2 separate regions of the Homo sapiens genome follow, and region 2 is linked to region 1. The links come from fine-mapping of genetic effects on gene expression. A gene starts in region 1. The other region holds a variant in brackets. All regions are shown on one strand. Distances are from middle to middle.

Region 1 (5,372 bases):
TTCATTGCCTCCCGAGGCCAACCTGCTAGATAAATTCCCCTCATTGCTGCAAATAGTCCCACAAGGCAAGCAGGGAAGAACTAGAGGAGCAAACCAAAGAACAAAGAGTGTGTTCTTATTCTGCCACGGATATATCCTTAACGTTCATCACCAATCTATTTTGATAACATGCAACAATTTACAATTTATGCCAAAATTATAAGAACTGTCCAAATAGTCGTAAATGTGAGCTCTCAAAATTTCTGCCTGTCAGCCCTCTCTCTTCCATGAGCCCCTTCATGCCTTCCTATCTCACCTGTTTCTTTTCTCGCCTAGACGAAGAAATGCTGATCATAACCCAGAATATCCAAGGGTCATTTCATCTTACAAAAACAGCAGCATCCATATAACAGGCACATGGGTAAAAGACTCAAGACATGCTGGTTATATGCTCTCGCAGTTCGTATGAATCTCTCCTTCTCCAAGTGACAGCTGGAATTCAGGTGCTTCTAGGCTCTGTTACTAGCAATGTTAGACACTCCTCGAAGCTGTCAAGCTCTCAGGATTACACAAGTGAAACCACAACCTGTCCTGACTGTATTCAAGTCTGTGCCCCTTCATGCAGCAGAAATGGATTCCTCTTCCACAGTTTCAGCAGCTGTATCCTTCCGTGGAAAAGGATTAGCAGCCATAAGCCCGGGGGAGGGCAGCTAAACACCAGAGGGCAGGAGATGAGTCTCCTTCCTCTCTGTGACACCCAGCACGGCCCTGCCACGAGGAGCAGGCAACCACTGGTGCCAGATGAAGCGCAGCACATAAAACCATTTTCCCCTTCAAATGAACGATGCCTAATTAAGCAAAAGCCGCATGCATGACTTAAGACATGAGGATATAAAATTCGTCTTCCGAGTCAGCTAGAGATTCTGCAGGATCCTCTACCCTCGTAAACGTATTTTTTTATGATTAGAAAAACCCGGGGCCTGGAAGGGACCTCGGCCATCGGCAGGGTAAGCTTCTCAGGAGAGACCATGAGCCCGAGCCCCACAGGGGGATCAGTGTCTGCCAAGGTCACCAAGCGGGTGTGAGGCAAGGGCAGGGCTCCTCGGGGATGCTCTCGGAAAACCCTGCGTTACTTACACACGCAAGGCGTACAATGAATGCACACCCGCGTCAAGCCACGGCTTACAATTCAGAAGAAATCAAAAGGTCGCCAAAACCTGTCTTCTCCGCAAGGCTGGCTGCAGAGAGGGTGCAGGGAAGGTCACCGGCAAATTTCTACCAGCGGCCCCACATCACGCCTCCCCGATGGATGCAGAGAGAGGTTTCAGGAGCTGCTAGTAACCTTGCAGGGGGTTCCCTAAGCCCATCCCAGGAAAACGAGTTAACTCGGCTCTGCTAACTCCGAAGCTTCCAGCAATGAATTAAATCCCGAGCTGCAGCGGAAAGCGGCGGGGAAAGGGCCACTGCGGCGGGACCCGACACCCGGCGGTCCGCCCCACCCTCTACCGCGTACACACCTGCGTGGGACCCCCCGCCCGGTCCACACGGCCCGGGACCACGACCCTCCGCCCGCGCCCCAGCCGGGCTCGCCTGAGGGTGTCGTGCCCTGGGCGCTGCCCGCGGGGTTCGAGGCGGAAACGCCGCGCCCAGCCGGCCCGGGAAGAGACAAGTCGCCGCCGCAGCCCCCAGCCCGCGGGCCCCCGCGACGCCGAGGAGGGGGCTGCGCCACGTACCTCGGCCGGCAGGTGCCGCCGCTGCCTCGGTCCGCGGCTGCAGGGGACGCCGCTCCGCGCAGCCCGCCGCCTTCGTCCGCATACTAATGAGGGGGCGCCGGCCGGCCGCCAGCCCGGTACCCCGCGCCCCCACCCGCCCCCAGCGCCGCTCTCGCGCCCATTCAGCTGGGGGCCGCCGCTCCCCCGCTCAGATGCGGAGGAGGGGCGCGTGGGCGGGGTCTGACGTCACGAGGACGCGGACGGCCAATCGGAGAGCACGATGCCTCCGCGGCGGCCCCCGCCCCCGGGCGCGCGGCCAGTCAGCCCTGCGGTGCGGTGGGCATTGCCAGAGCAGGGCGCCCCCTGCAGGGACGCACCCGGGGCGGGGGCCAGGCTGGGGCGAGCCCCCCTTGGTTCTGGAGAGGAAATGACATACAGTTTGTGAAAGCATAAATATTCGTGAAAATAAGAAAATTCAGGAAGGAAACAAAGCTTAAGGCAGTGATTGATAGGTTATTTCTTGGACACAGCTGAACGTATACTGTGCGCCTGCAACTTTCCGGTGGTTTCGGACCGGACTTCAGTGAAGCCAGTGAAGTCGGTCGACTTGCAGAACTTCCTTTCAGAGGGGCGTACACAGCACCGCGGCCGTGTGCCTGTGATCTCCTTCTGAGTTTGAAAAAGAAGATCCTAGACACCGAGCCAAATATGTTTGCATAAACCGGGAGACTTGTGGCTCTATTTTGTAACAGCTTGGCGCAGGGCAGCTGGTTTGGAGATGTCTCTGTTCTTCCCTTGGTGGGGGTGCCGGAAAAAATGTGCTGCCTGGGCGATCGAGGTTGGGGCAAAAGCGTTGCAAAGGAAAAGGTGGGAGGACTCTACTTTCACATTTCCCAAAAGAGTTTTACCATAAGACTATTTCTGGATTGTTCTAACGTGAGGATATTGGGAGCATTTTGAAAATACTGGAGGAAAAGCTGTCACTGGGCGATTTAAATCCGGTAAGTTGGCCAAGGCAGAGCAGCTGCTGGGGTCAGCGACAGCTGACCCTTGCAGCTGAGTATCTTGCCCTCTTAATCTTGGAGATCAGCCCAAGGCCCATGTGTTACAGGAAAGGGGTCCCGATCTAGACCCCAAGAGAGGGTTCTTCGATCTCACGCAAGAAACAATTCAGAGTAAGTCCACAGTGCAAAGTAAAAGCAAGTTTATTAAGAAAGTAAAGTGGTGGCTGGGCACAGTGGCTCACGCGTAATCCCAGCACTTTGGGAGGCTGAGACGGACAGATCACCTGATGTCAGGAGTTCAAGACCAGCTGGCCAACATGGCAAAACCCCGTCTCTACTAGAAATACAAATATTGGCCGGGCGTGGTGGCGCAAGCCTGTTGTCTCAGCTACTCACGGGGCTGAGGCAGGAGAATCGCTTGAACCCGGGAGGCAGAGGCTACAGTGAGCCGAGATCGCCACTGCACTCCAGCAGGGCATTCCTGAAAATAAGAGGAGGGACATATCCAACTAAGGTACAATGCTTGTAATGCTTGTATATATGGGCAGATGTCTTCTGCTACAAGGGTTTGTGATAAAGGATTAATTTTCCCTAATTACTATATTTTGCAATAATCAATATTATTATTTTTAAAGCAAAATTAGGAATGCCTTTGTTCTCCAGATATCGGGATATCTGGACTCTCTCAAGTCTGGGTCTGTTTAGTAAGCATTATTAATTTGTTCTCTTAACCATAAACACCTAGAGGCTAGGAATGCCTAGCTTTCAGGAAATGCAGCCTAGCAAGTCCCAGCCTCATTTTTCTAGCCCTCACTCAAAATGGAGGCGCTCTGGTTTGAACACTTCTGACACATGTGCTTGATGCAACACTCTTTACCTCTCTTTGTCTCCCCTGTCCTTCCCCTTCTCTTCCAGATTCCCCTTGTCGGCAAAGCCAGGCGCTGATAGCGTTATGGCTGCCATGAGAGTCAGCAGTATCCCAGCTTCCAAGGATGGGTGTAAGGTGGGGGTGAGGAAGAAAAGGAACTTGAAGCTGCCTCCTGTCCCAGAATCACAAGACATCTGTTAAGCCCTTACTACCTCATTCACTCCACTCACATTAGGTTGACCCACTTGGGCAGCAAGACAAGCAGGCCTGCAAACTTCCTTTTCTTCATCAGCCACAGAGACATCCTCAGCTATTATTCTGGATTAAGGCAGAGATCTCCAAACAGCAGACTAAGATCAGCCTCTAGATCTCAAAGCCTTACTGTTATCTCTCCAAGTCAGTGGCTGATCTCAGAGAAGCTTCTGAATAGTGACTAGCAAAGAGTCACTCAGGCTACTTACAAATCCAGGACAGCAGCGTTTTTTTTTTTTTCTTTTTTAGAGACAGATTCACTCTGTCATCCAAGCTGGAGTGCAGTGGCACGATCTTGGCTCACTGCAACCTCCACCTCCTGGGCTCAAGCAATCCTCCTACCTCAGCCTCCCAAGTAGCTGGAACTACAGGTACCCAACACCATGCCAGGCTAATTTCTAATTTTTTGTAGAGACAGCAGTCTCCCTCTGTTGCCCAGGCTGGCCTCAAACTCCTAGGCTCAAGTGTTCCTCCTGCCTGGGCCTCCCAAAGTGCTGGGATCACAGATGTGAGCCACTGCATGCAGCCAAAACCAGTTATTTTTTGGCTGGGCATGGTGGCTCGCACCTGTGATCCCAGCACTTTGGGAAGCCGAGGTGGGCAGATTACTTGAGGTCAGGAGTTTGAGACCAGCCTGGACAACATGGTGAAACCCTGTCTCTGCTAAAAGTACAAAAAATTAGCTGGGCATGGTGGCATGTGCCTGTAATCCCAGCTACTCAGGAGGCTGAGGCAGGAAAATTGCTTGAACCCAGGAGGCAGAGGTTGCAGTGAGCCGAGATCACGCTAGTGCACTCTAGCCTGGGTGACAGAGCGAAACTCTGTCTAAAAAAAAGAAGTTATTTTTTATCAATATATATTAACATGCAATGGATTTATTATTATTATTATTTTATTTATTTATTTTTTACTTGAGACAGAGTCTTGCTCTGCCACCCAGGCTGGAGTGCAATGGTACAATCATGGCTCACTGCAACCTCCACCTCCCAGGTTCAGGTGATTCTCCTGCCTTAGCCTCCAGAAGTAGCTGGGATTACAGGCACGTACCACCATGCCCAGCTAATATTTGTATTTTTAGTACAGATGGGGTTTCACCATGTTGGCCAGGCTGGTCAAGAACTCCGGACCTCAGGTGATCCACCCTCCTCAGCCTCCCAAAGTGCTGGGATTATAGGTGTGAACCACAATGCCCAGCCAGATTTATTATTTTAATGACTTAATAAATATTTTAAAATTTAAATATTTAAATTAAATTAAATATTTAAAAATTTCTCAGTTTTAATTTTTAATTTGGCAAATATCAAGAGAAAGACCATGTCAAAAAGATTCTTTGGGATCCTCAGTAATTTCTAGGTGTGTAAATTGATCCTGAGACCAGAGTTTGAGACTTACTGGTCTCAGCCACCCAGATAGCCCCATTGCCCCATCCTCCTTGCCACTAGGAATGGTTCATGGGTAGCCACAGGAACCACACTGATCCAATCAGAGGAAGTCTCAGGAATTTATTGGATGCTGGGGGAGAGATGCTTTCATGTTCTGCTAGACAAGAACTAGGCA
Region 2 (5,372 bases), 120 kb after region 1:
TGTTTAATTATATTATAATTAATATAACAAAGACCTAGAAGTAGGAGTTCCAAGATTGGCTCATGAGTTTGTGGAAACAAAAACTTACAAGCCATACATTTTTAAACTCAGCTTTGGCTATAAGAGTTTAATCCAAGCTCAAGCCTGCAAGTCTGAATCCATAGTTATTGAAGAACTATGACAGAATGGGTGTCTAATGACATACATGCTTTAGGAAGACAAGCTCTGAGTCAGCCATTATAAGACAAAGAAAAGTTAGCAAATATTTCCATACCTATTACCAAACAAGGTAAGTTAAATCTATACCTTGTCCCCCCTATTTTTATCATAAAATTCAGTTTCCAAGTTTTTTTATTGAGAAGGGCATAGAGTTTTTCTGAAATAGTGTTAGTTCTAATAGTAATAGTCCTAAAGATCATTGATTGACTTACAATCTTGAGACCAGGATATGTTTGTTACAGTAACATCTGCCAGGATGTGTGTTGTAGAAAACTTTTGTTCACACAAAACTGCAAATTGTGTTTGGCATAGGCATTTGATCTTATCTACCAGTTGAGGTGATTATTAAACCTGACTTCATTGATCTCACTTTCATTTACTCACCTTATAAAAGAGGACTGTGCAGGTTTTCTTAAATTTAGGAACATGGTGAAAGGTATTGTCTTCCTTGTAAAATGTAAGAGTGGTGACAGCAAATCAACTTTAAAATATAATGCAGAGGCTAGGCTGGTGGCTCACGCCTGTAATCCCAGCACTTTGGGAGGCTGAGGCAGGCAGATTACAAGGTCAGGAGATCGAGACCATCCTGGCTAAAATGATGAAACCCCTGTCTCTACTAAAACTACAAAAAATTAGCCAGGCATGGTGGTGGGTGCCTGTAATCCCAGCTACTCAGGAGGCTAAGTCAGGGAGATTCACTTGAACTCAGGAGGCGGAGGTTGCAGTGAGCCGAGATCACACCACTGCACTCCAACCTGGGCAACAGAGTGAGATTCCGTCTCAAAAAAAAAAATACAATGCAGAATGAAATGGGTCACAACCACTCAACCATGCCAGGGCCCTAGGTCAGCCCTCTGCCAATCTCTAGGCATGCCAGTGGCAGCAAGGTGACTGCCAAGGGAAGAAGGGGATGGACCTCTCCCTATGGATGTAACTAGGTATTTTCCCAGAAGCTACTTACATGCCATTGATAAGGGTCTGGCCAGTCAAGAGCACAGGGGCTGGGGTTGCTATGATTGGTTTAGGCCACTTATAGCTGAACATATTACAGCCTGATTGAAACTGGGGTTTTGTCAGTAGGGGAGGCAGAGCAGGCAGAGGGGCTGCAAAGTAGGGAGTGAGATGTCAGACAACTGCCTTTGCTGCCTCCCCCTAGTCCCCATTCTGGGAGCCCACTGTAGAAGACACAGCGGGCGGTAGGAAACATATGTGAAAAAGCTCGATTTTTACAATGCAATAAACATTAAACAGCTTTGTTGGAGAGCAAGGAGCCTCATAAAGTGAGTCACCCAGGATCCTTCTCGCAGGACTGGGGCATGCCAAAGAGCAGGCTTTGAGTGTAGGTAGACCTGGCCGCCTCTCAGTGCACCTCTGATGGCACCAGCTCCTGGGCAGGGAGCTGTTCCCCCAGGGCACTGGCATCTGGGCAGGGCCAAGGAAGTCCTCACCTCTGTGACTCTGCTCCCAGGCACTCGACATCCTTCTTGGCTGGGAAAGTGTGACCTCCAGGAAAATGCTGGGGACGTGCAGAGGCCAGCGCCCTCTGCATGGGTCTCCTGGGAGGCCTGTGAGGGGCCTGGGAAATGATCACAGGCTTTTCCCAGCCTTCCTTCATCCTTGGGAAATTCGCTGAAGGCCAGTCCCCTGTTGAGTGTGGGGCTCTAGGCCCTCTTGGGTCCTGAGCAGAGCTGGGCCCCACTCCTTTCTCTCCCAGCAGTGACCGTAAGACACTGCCCCCAAGTGAGGAGAGGGACCCCTGTGTGAACCGGCTGCAGGAAGCCCTTGCTCCTTTCTCAAGGCTGCGAGCCAAAGAGAGCAGGCTCCTGGGGCTGTCTCTTCACTATCCAGTCCAGCCCTAACAACCTACTCCTGCTTGGGTCTCCCCGCCCCCTACCCTCTGCCCTGTGCTCCCACCATCCACTTCAGGCGAAAGGGAGAGTGTGCTGTCCTGTACATGCTCACACATTCCTGTGCCTATTACCTGGCCCCTCACCTGGAAGGCCTGTCTTTGATCTTCCACCTAGACAGAGTTGCCCCCCTCTGGCCCTCCCAACATGCAGCTGACCCAGGATGGTCCTGCAGCCCACAATGGCCTCGATGAGCACATCTCACAGGGCTAGGTAGGGGGCACTGGCAGAAAATTAGCACCCAATGGGGAGAGGCTGCAGCAGGACCAGAGCAGGAGCATGGCCAGGGCAGGATGCCCACCTGCAGCCGTCCCCAGGGGGCTTGGCCATGTGGCATGCGCTGCTGGTGGAGGAAGCTTGGCTGAGCATGGGGGCAGGGGAACAGGCCCCCACACACACTCAGATGCACGTTTACAATCACATGAGCTGCATTCTAACAGCTAGTGTATGTCCTTTTTATTCTCAAAAAAATTTTTTTACTGTAGTGAAATACACATAATATAAAAATGACCATCTTAACTATTTTTAGCTGTACAGTTCAGTAGCATTAAGTACATTCACATTGCTGTGCAACTCTCACCACCATCCATCTCCATAACCCTTTTCCTCTTGTAAAACTGAAATTCTATACCCATGAAACACTAACTCCCCATTTCCCCTTCTCCCAGGCCCTGGCAACCAGCATTCTGCTTTCCATCTTTATGGTTTTAACGATGCTAAGTACTTCAGTCTTGAATACTTTTCTCCATTCCCCACAGCACCCCGCTCCCCAGTCGCAGACACCCTTGCCTGCTCTTGATTTGCCTGTGACATTGCAGTGGTTAACATGGGCCCCCTTGCCTCCAGTCAGAAGGCAAATCAATCCCTTCCCTGCTCTAGCAGGATTGGAAGTCACTGAACCTATTTGCTTCTCATTCAAAGTGATGGCAGCCAGAGGGTGGTGTGGCAGTGCTGGGATGGGTGGGGTGCAGGCAGTGGAGATGGCAGGAAGGACAAAAGCCTCAGCTGTTCTAGGGGACAGTGGCAGGAAGAGCC[G/A]CCTGTGATCCAGACAGACCCCAGTATAGGCATCTGCGCAGCATCTCTAAGACAGATGCAGCATATCCCACACAGGAGGAGGAAAGAGAAGGGTGAACCCTTCACGAGAGACTTTCAATTGTCTCTGATGGCTCATCCCTACCTCACAGCCTGCTGTGATGCTTAGAGTTCTCTAGGCAGCCATCCCTAATTGAGTATAATGGACTGAATGTCTGTGTCCCCCCTCAAATTCATATGTTGAAGCCCTAACCCTCAGTGTGGATGTATTTGGAGATGGGGCCTCTAAGGAAGTAATTAAGGTTAAATGAAGTCCTAGGGTGGGGTCTTGATCCAATAGGATTAATGTCCTTCTAAGAAGAAACATCAGAGTGTGCCAGCATGTGCTCGTGCTCTCTCTCCTCTCTTCTCTCTCTGCCTCTGTCTGTCTCTCTCTGTCTCCTTGTGGAGGAATGAGGAAGGGCCATGTGAACACACAGCAAGATGGCAGCTTCCTATAAGCCAAAGAAAGAGACCTCAGAATAAAACCTACCTTGCGGGCATTTTGATCTCGGACTTCTGGCTGCAGACTGTGAGAAATAAATTTCTGTTGTTTAAGCCACCCAGTCTGTGGTATTTTGTTACAGCAACCCAAACTGGCTGAGACATCGAATCATCATGAAGCCACGGGGCAAAGGCATGGGAGTATTAACAGGCATAGCTTGTATCAGAAACGGGGAGTAGCATGGTGTGTCCAGAGGCCATGGCATTTAGAGAGGGGTGTAACTAGAGATGGAATCAGAGAGCTAGAGCCTCTATATCATCTATGGCAATGCAGGCCATGCCAGGGCCTTGGGACTTACCCTAAGAGCACTGAGGAATGATCTTCACATTTGCATTTAGAAAGAGCTATCTGACTGCTCTGTGCAGGCTTGATCAGTAGAAGTGGGGAGGAGCAGTGGAAAGGGTGGGGATGAAGGGGCAAGAGATCAAGAGGCAGCTGTTCCATGGATCAACCATAGGGTAGATGTGGGCCATGGGAAGGGATGGGCCTGGTCACCAATTAGCTGCAGATGAAGAGGCAGTTTCTGGCCTGGATGATGATGAGTTGCACAAATAGTTCTCCCCTTGACAGAGACGTGATTGACTCCCAAGCCTGGGCAGGTCCCAGGTTCCAAACAGAACAGAAGTCCCTGAATCTTATTTCTACCACATTCAGTTGGTCAAAGCTAGTCACAGGCCAGCCCAGATTCAGTGCTGGTGGGGCCTACCTGACGGTGTGAATACAAGGAGGCTCAAGTCGCTGGGATCATTTCATAACACCCCACCACCACATCCAAGTTCCAGACAGGAAGAAAGGGAAAAACAAAGCCAAAGGCCAGAAGCACTTGCCACCTAGCTAGGCCTATCCTTTTGAACAAGCTTTCCCCGAAGTCTCATTCAGTGCCTTCCTCTGGTCCAGAGAAAGAAATGGGTCACATGACTATCCCTAGCTGCAAGGGAGTCTGGGAAACAGTATTTTAACCTGAGCACACTGACACCACCAATAAAATCCAAATTCTCAGTAAGGAAGAAGGAGAGGATAGATCTAGAGGAAGCAACTAGCAGGGCCTGCTTCAGAGGCCATGGAAGAGTTGGGGGGAACCACCACCACTAAGTGCTTTTATGGGAGAGAAGCCATGCTCAGCATGCACCAAATTATGAGAAAATGGAGAGGCTGGTTCATTAGGTCTGGGGTGGGGTCCAAGGTGTGCATCTCCAACATGCTCCCAGGGCTGCTGATCCTGGCAGTAGGAAGATCACACTTGGAGTGGCCCTAAACTGGGTTATACTGGGGTCACAAGCAACCCCACATGTCAGAGGTTTAAATAGCTGAGGTTTGTTCCTTACTCATGCAGCCTGTGCACTGTGAGTTGGCTGGGGCTTTGCGCCTGGGAGCCAGGTGGCCAGAGCATCTACCATCTGGAGCAGCACTGGTGACCAGGCCAGAGGGAAAGAAGTCATTCATGGCAAAGAATTAAGCAACTCTTAGAAGTCATTCAAGTCAAATGGCCATGCCCAACATCTGGCAGGGAGGGGAAGCCGGTACTGGTGAACCATACTACAGACTATGACAGCTTCACAGAAGAGATGGGATTTAAGCAGAGGGGTCTTTGAAGGATAAATAGGAGCTTACTCTGTAGAGAAGGGGCCAGAACATTCGAGGCTGAGGGAACATCATAAATAACTATAACA

What was found.
Region 2: its variant is fine-mapped to the expression of ST3GAL5 in whole blood (TOPMed, PIP above 0.99).

Annotation. Positions count from the first base shown.
Region 1 is chr2:85,887,112-85,892,483 of GRCh38, forward strand. ST3GAL5 (ST3 beta-galactoside alpha-2,3-sialyltransferase 5) reads right to left here and starts at 1,879. Exons shown (of 7, transcript NM_003896.4): 1 at 1,713-1,879. The coding sequence starts at 1,794. ST3GAL5-AS1 (ST3GAL5 antisense RNA 1) reads left to right here and starts at 2,169. Exons shown (of 3, transcript NR_110569.1): 1 at 2,169-2,692; 2 at 4,065-4,094; 3 at 4,580-5,141. RefSeq lists enhancers at 461-580, 591-720, 1,059-1,559, 1,251-1,330 and silencers at 1,501-1,620, 1,661-2,280.
Region 2 is chr2:86,010,077-86,015,448 of GRCh38, forward strand. No RefSeq gene overlaps it. Among named protein-coding and RNA genes, the nearest start is that of POLR1A, 93 kb to the right of the region's middle. RefSeq lists an enhancer at 2,044-2,544. The variant G/A (reference allele first, on the strand shown) is at 3,162.